Homo sapiens: one gene and its partner. The protein of the gene in region 1 interacts with the protein of each later gene in a pairwise test. Each region holds a gene or a part of one and is shown on either strand. Other genes may lie near its edges.

What was found. Proteins that work in one complex are often made in the same cells at the same time.
Region 2: the proteins of SMCO1 (region 1) and SGK3 interact in a two-hybrid assay, tested with the Homo sapiens proteins (one large-scale study listed by BioGRID).

What each region holds. Positions count from the first base shown.
Region 1 is NC_000003.12:196,512,547-196,516,552, reverse strand, and holds the start of SMCO1 (single-pass membrane and coiled-coil domain-containing protein 1), read left to right. Parts: upstream 1-1,206; 5' UTR 1,207-1,343; coding exon 1,344-1,393; exon of another isoform or gene 1,394-1,423; coding exon of another isoform or gene 1,424-1,449; intron 1,450-4,006.
Region 2 is NC_000008.11:66,834,781-66,838,280, reverse strand, and holds part of SGK3 (serine/threonine-protein kinase Sgk3), read right to left. Parts: intron 2,519-3,500; coding exon 2,435-2,518; intron 2,339-2,434; coding exon 2,207-2,338; intron 1-2,206. Other genes in the region: C8orf44-SGK3 (serine/threonine-protein kinase Sgk3), read right to left, coding at 2,207-2,338, 2,435-2,518.

The DNA of each region.
Region 1 (4,006 bases):
AAATACGTGACATGGCTCTTACCAGTTTAAATGGTGTGGTTATTTTCTTTTTCTTATATGAATCTTTTGCTCAAAACATACCTACTCATTGTTTCCTGAACACATCATTTACTTTGCCACCTCTGTGATTTTGCTCACACAATTTCTCCAGTTCGTAACACCCTTAACACTCTTCTCTGATAATCAAAGACCTTGACCTTTAAGGCCAAGCCAAGTACCACCTTCAGGGTGAATATCTCCCCAAGGACCCAAGATTTCAGTGACTTAGTCTCTCACCTTCTATTATTTTTATGGTCTCTATCTACTTAGCACACATCCCATATACATTTTCTATTTAAGGATATATTCTTTCTTCCCAACTAGATTTTAAATCTCATGAAAACAGCAGTCCTATTTTATTTCCACATTTATATTCAATTCCTAATCTAATATATATATAATTATATAAAATTATATATATATTTTATATACGATATAAATTATATATTATATATAATTATATGTATAATTTTATATATAATTATATATATATATATATATATATATATATATATATATATATATCCTATCCTCTTGCCCGGGCTGGAGTGCAGTGGCATGATCATAGCTCACTGCAGCTTCGAACTCCTGGGCTCAAGCAGTCCTCCCACTTCAGCCTCTTGAGTAGCTGGGACTACAGGCATGCACCACCACTCCTGGCTAATTTTTGTATTTTTTGTGGAGACAGTCTCGCTCTGTGGCCCAGGCTGGTCTTGAATTCCTGGGCTCAAGCAATCCTCCCACCTTGGCTTCCCCAAGTGCTGGGATTACAGGAGTGAGCCACCATACCCAGCCATAACAAGTATTTAGTAGTTTCTAATGATAGTTAGATTTTTTGCTTTGATATCATCATCATAAAAGATCTGGGGCACTCTTCAAACCTAATTTAGGTTGTAATTGAATAATGAAGCAGTTAAAATATGACAGTAATATTTCCATCAAACTTAATCCTATACGTTACGTTAATGTATCTGTATATACATTTACCATAATGTACACAGTCATTAATTATACATGGTTGTTGCTGTATGTTAATGTACTATGGTTCAGTTTTCAAAGGCAAATGTTATAGTGCATTCCAGGACACCTGTGTCCACGAGATAAGTTCTTTGAAACTATATTTGGATCTGCAGGCTATTAAAAGCTTCTTGTACTGAGTGACCTTTCAGGCAGAATGTAGACTGAGCGCTCCTGCTACTGCTGCCTGTTGCTGAGAGGAAGACCGCAGAAAATTCTGGATTCAAACATTTATTGCTTTTTTTGTTTTGCTTTGTTTTTGTTTTCTTTCCTTTTGCCTTCAGAAGATGAACAATGAAACCACAACCCTGATATCCTTGAAGGAGGCAATGAAAAGGTTGCTGAGGGCTATAGGGAGGGAGCAAGCATGGGTCTGCTATTCTGGGAAGATGGGTAAGAGAAGAATGAAGAATAGAAATAAAGAACTGCAGACATGCTCATTAGAATTCTGTCTCTGTGGCCGGTGCGGTGGCTCACACCTGTAATCCCAGCACACTGGGAGGCCGAGGTGGGCGGATCACAGGGTCAAGAGATTGAGACCAGCCTGGCGAACATGGTGAAACCCTGCCTCTACTAAAAATACAAAAATTACCCAGGCATGGTGGCGGGCGCCTGTAGTCCCAGCTACTTGGGAGGCTGAGGCAGGAGAATCACTTGAACCCGGGAGGTGGAGGTTGCAGTGAGCCGAGATCGTGCCACTGCACTCCAGCCTGGCAACAGAGCAAGACTCCGTCCAAAAAAAGAATTCCGTCTCTATTACAGTGGTTTAAGTCTTCCAGGCCCAAACCTATGTAAATTAACAATAAAGAAAAGTCTGCTCCCAGGTGCTGTAACTCCATTGAATGTATGCATATGCTAAATCCTAGATTTACAAAAATAAGTAAAATGTGGTTTCTGCCCTCAAGGAGCTCACAGCCTGTAGGAAAGAGAAAAGTTTGAAAAACATTTACAATTTAATGTGACTGACCTTACAATGGTGATGTTCCTAAAGGTCTATGCGAACATGAAGGGAGGATCAACCAATTTTGCCTTTGACACTAGAAAAAGGAACTCTTCATATAGGGTCATTTAAGCTGGATCTTAAAGTGCAAGTAGGAGCTTATGAGGGAGAAAAATATGGGAAGGCATTCTAGGCTGAGGAAACAGTGCATATAAGCCATATGTAAGCTTGGAACCACATAATGTATTCAAGCAGCAACTAGATGTCTCGTGTAATTGGTAACTAGGATGGGTGAGGGGACTGGTGGAAGACAGGAGCAAAGGGTGAAGGCCCTTGACTTTCCTGCTGAGGAGATCCAGTTTGCCTCTGAGTATATCACTGGGCAAGCCAGGATGACATAAACCATTTGTAATCAGTTGAGTCACAGAATCGGAATTGTGTTTTAGAAGAATGTGTCTGGAGGATGGATGGGAAATGGAAAACGGGGGTCCAGTTAGGCTACGGTAATCTTGGGTCCTAGTGAAAGATGATGAGAAACTCATTTGATGGAGATGGAGAGGCAGGAATGGGTTAGAGAGACATAAATCAGGGGAAGAAAAAAGTTGAGAATTATTCTGAGATTTCTAGTTCAAGCAATTGATTGGATGGTGAGGTCATTAACGAAACTAGGGAACTGTACTAAAACAAAACAAAACAGCCTGCGCTGAGATTTGCATGTTGGTTGAGATTTATCTGGAACGGCCTCGGACTGTCCTTTGGTGAGAGGATTCCAAAGAACTGCTGCAACTGTAAATTTTTATACTGATTGACAAGCTAGACTTCTTCCCTAAGTTTCAAACTACAGATGACCTATAAGCAATATAGTCTTAAAGGTCTAAAAGTTAACACAAAATAGTATGCCAAATGGCTTTTTTTTTTTTTTTTTTTTTGAGACAGAGTCTCACTCTGTCACCAGGCTGGAGTGCAGTGGCGCGATTTCAGCTCACTGCAACCTCCGCCTCCCAGGTTCAAGTGATTCTCCTGCCTCAGCCTCCTGAGTAACTGGGACTACAGGTGTGCATCACCACACCCGGCTAATTTTTGTATTTTTAGTAAAGAAGGGGTTTTACCATGTTGGCCAGGATGGTCTCGATCTCTTGACCTCATGATCCACCTGCCTTGGCCTCCCAAATGGCTGGGATTACAGGCGTGAGCCACTGCACCCGGCCAACTTTCTTTTTTTTTTTTTGACACAGGGTCTTGCTGTGTTGCTCAAGCTGAGTGCAGTGGCATGATCACAGCTCACTGCAGCTTTGAACTCCTGGGCTGAAGCAATTCTCATACCTCAGCTTCCCCAGTAGCTGGGACCACAAGTGTGCACACCACCACACTAGGCTAATTTTTTATTTTTTGTAGAGATGAGGTCTCACTATGTTGCCCAAGCTGGTCTCAAACTCCTGGACTCAAGTGATCCACCCACCTTGGCCTCCCAAACTGCTGTGATTACAGTTGTGAGCCACTGCACCTAGCTCAAATCACATGGTTTTGACTTGTAGACAGAAATTACAGGCATATCAGGTCACACAGGCTTCTATTCCTACAAAATGAACATTTTATACTGAGTCTTATCTATGTGTAAAGCAGTGACAACATTTCTTCATAGTAATTTCTGAAGATGGGGGAGGTATTAGTAGGTTAAGCTTAGGAGAGTTGAGTTTGACATCTCCATCTTTGTGGAGATGCACAAAACATATTGAAAATACATCTCTAGGCCGGGTGCGGTGGCTCACGCCTGTAATCCCAGAACTTTGGGAGGCCGAGGTGGGCGGATCGCCTGAGGTCAGGAGTTCGAGACCAGCCTGGCCAACATGGTGAAACCCCATCTCTACTAAAAATACAAAAATTAGCCGGATGTGGTGGCGCCTGTAATCCCAGCTACTCGGGAGACTGAGGCAGGAGAATCACTTGAACCTGGGAGACAGAGGTTGCAGTGAGCCAGGATCGTGCCACTGTACTCCAGCCTGGCGACAG
Region 2 (3,500 bases), on another chromosome or scaffold:
CACCCTGGCCAACATGGCGAAACCCCGTCTCTACTAAAAATACAAAAATTAGCTGGGCGTCATGGCACGTGCCTGTAATCCCAGCTACTCGGGAGGTTGAGGCAGGAGAATCGCTTGAACCAGGGAGTTGGAGGTTGCAGTGAGCTGAGATCGCACCACTGCACTCCAGCCTGGTGACAGAGAGAGACTCCGTCTCAATAAATAAATAAGAAAGAAAATTTCATGGCATTTAATATAAATGCCATGGCAAATTAAATGGGCATAATAGTGTTTTCTGAAAGAGTTGTGATTTACTGACATAATGCATGTAAAATAATTGCAAAGTGCCAAGCCTCAATAAATTCTCTTTATCTGTCAGCACTTGGGCACACACAAAATTAAACGACAACCTTCAAGGTGAAAACAATGTGGGGTCACCTGCATCAATGAATCAGGATGCCTGAGAGATGGATAATCTTGCCTCTACACTGAAGAGTCTTAAGGGAATTTTTTTTTTTGACACAGGGTCTTGTTCTGTCACCCAGGCTGGAGTACAGTTGTGTGATCATGGCTCATTGCAGCCGCAACCTCCTGGGCTCAAACAATCCTCCCACCTCAGCCTCCTGAGTAGCTGGGACTACGGAGGCATGTCACCATGCCCAGCTAATTTTTGTTATTTTTTTTGTAGAGATGGGGTTTCGCCATGTTGCCCAGGCTAGTCTTGAACTCCTGGGCTCCAGTGATCCACCCACATCGGCCTCCCAAATTGCTGGGATCATAGGTGTTGAGCCACCACACCTGGCCTTAAGGGACTTTTGTGACAGATGTAGAAAGGTGAATAATCATTCTTTTTACAATCTTCCCCCAAAATGATCTAGGTGTGTCTGACCATCTTTCGGTTTTGCAGAATATTAACTAATTTTCCTTACAGTTCCTTTCTTCTACAGTTAAATGCTGAAATAGTCATTTTCTGCTCAGAGATTGGGGAATGAAAGATCCCTTTGTAAAGATATGACAATACCTATTAGTTAAAAAAATTTTTTAGACATTCACAGTTCAAAGACCAAACAAATTAGAAAGGTGTGAGGGTTGAGAGGTCAGCTGCCTAGATCCTGGAATCAGGCTGCCTCAGTTCAATCCCTGCCTCTGATACTAACCACATTACTTCTACAAGCTACCTAGCTTCTCTGTGCCTCAGTCAGTCTTACTATAGATTGTTGTGAAGGTAAAATTATATGTACAAAGAGCCAGAGTGATGGATACTAAGTAATACTCAATGGAAGTTAGTTATTATTGTAATTATTGTAATAGCAGCATTTCCCAAAGTGTATTTCAATATCCATCTGAATCAGAGTTTTGTGTAATACTTAAGAGATTGGTTGAAACAAAAAAGGGGACTGCACGGTTTTAAAAAATTCTCTTAAGATATCCAATTTGAGGAGGTTGAGGCTGTAGCGAGCTGTGACCACTGCACTCCAGCCTGGGTGACAGAGTGAGACGCTGTCTCAAAAAAAAAAAAAAAAAAAAAAAGATATCCTGACTTTGTTTAAGGCAGAATTTCTCGAAGTCTTTAACATGCTGAGGCATATTGTGAATCACCAAGAAATGGATATAACATGAAACATTTCCAAAACAGACTTTATCATAAAGCCTTTTTTTTTTTTTTAAAGAGATGGGGTCTCGTTCTGTTACCCAGGCTGCAGTGCAATCATAGCTTACTGTAGCCTCAAACTCCTGGACTCAAGTGATCCTTCTGCCTCAGCCTCCTGAGTAGCTGAGATTAAAGGTGCGAGTCACTGAGCCAAGCTACCACCACAGAGCCCCTTATTAGAGGATTATCTCATCTGATTAATAATTTGCACATCTTGGAAACTGAGAAGCTGGAGTAATATTTGTATGCAACTGTTGAGATAATTGCCTAAATTACAAATCACATTTTATTCTAATATTTCAATATGTTATTCTTGCTATACAGTTTAGTGACAAACCTGTCCATGAAGCCAGCAGCTTCATATCAAGGTTCTTTTATGAACCTTCTCAACTATACCATATGCTTAAAAGCTCTGTGTTACAATTCTCCACATCCTGTACTCAGCCAGTACCTTGAATATTATTGCTATAAAAAGCTACTGATTTTATACTGTCCTTCTAAAACTTACAAGAAAAACTTTGACTTTATGCTATTTTTCTAAACTATTAACATTAGAAAACTCATTATAAAACTCACCTCCCCTCCATTAACAAAATCCAGAACAAAATAAAGCTTTTCAGTTGTTTGGAAGGAATAATGCAATCCAACCAAAAACGGATGTTTCACATTTTTCAAGAGCACATTACGTTCAGCCATAATATGTTTTTGCTGGAAAAAAGGCAAAAGATCAATTGTATTATACACTAGAAAACAGCTCTCTTAATTGAGAAAATGGGCTTGAGAGAAACAACTATTTTATTTTACCTCTTTTCTGTTGAGAACTATTTTTTTCTGTAACACTTTGACAGCATAAAATTTTCCATCCAGTTTCCGTTTTGCAAGAAGAACCTGTTATAGTTAAACATTAGTGTATACTATTAGAAATTTCAAATTTTGATAGAAATAATTCACTTGTCAACACATCAATACTTCTTAAATTCTGTAAAAAGAAAGTCCATAAGGGACCTAGATCATGTTTTTGTTTTAAAAATCAAGTAATCAGGCACCTTTTCTTTGTCACTTAATGTGTTGATATTTGAGATTTTTTAAACTAAATTTAAGTGCCCAAATCTACACTGCTTGAGAAGTTTGTGTGTGTATGCATGCATGTGCTCCAGCCCTGAATCCTGGAAGTCTCCTGTACTTCCAGGAGAAAATATTGCCTGTAGAAAATATTGTTATAAACTTCATGGCTACATTAACAAGGATAAGGAAATGTTTTTTAGGTAATCAAAATGTACTGTTTCATACTGAGATTTTTCTTAACAGGTTTTAAATTCAGAAGAGTTCAGAAGAAAAAGTGCCATGGATTTCTATAGTGGGCTGGGTCCCATGCAGACGCTTTAAAGAATCTGAAGAAATCTAGAGTATCTTGCAGTGGTGCAATGTTCACTCACTTGCAGCCTTGACCTCTCCAAGGCTCAGGTGATCATCCTGTCTCAGTCTTCCAAATAGCTGGGACTACAGGCGTGTGCCACCATACCTGGCTAATTTTTGAATTTTTTGTAGAGATGGGGTTTTGTCATGTTATCCAGGCTGGTCTCAAACTCCTGGGCTCAAGTGATCCACCTGCCTCGACCTCACCAAGTGCTGGGATAACAGGCGTAAGCCACCGCACCCAGCCTTCTTTTGTTTTACTGCACTTTGTTGGTTTCTTTTTTTTTTTTTTTTTGAGACAGAGTCTTGCTCTGTCGCCCAGGCTGGAGTGCAGTGGCGCGATCTCGGCTCACTGCAAGCTCCGCCTCCCGGGTTCACACCATTCTCCTGCCTCAGCCTCCCGAGTAGCTGGGACTACAGGCGCCCACCACCACACGGGGCTAATTTATTTTTT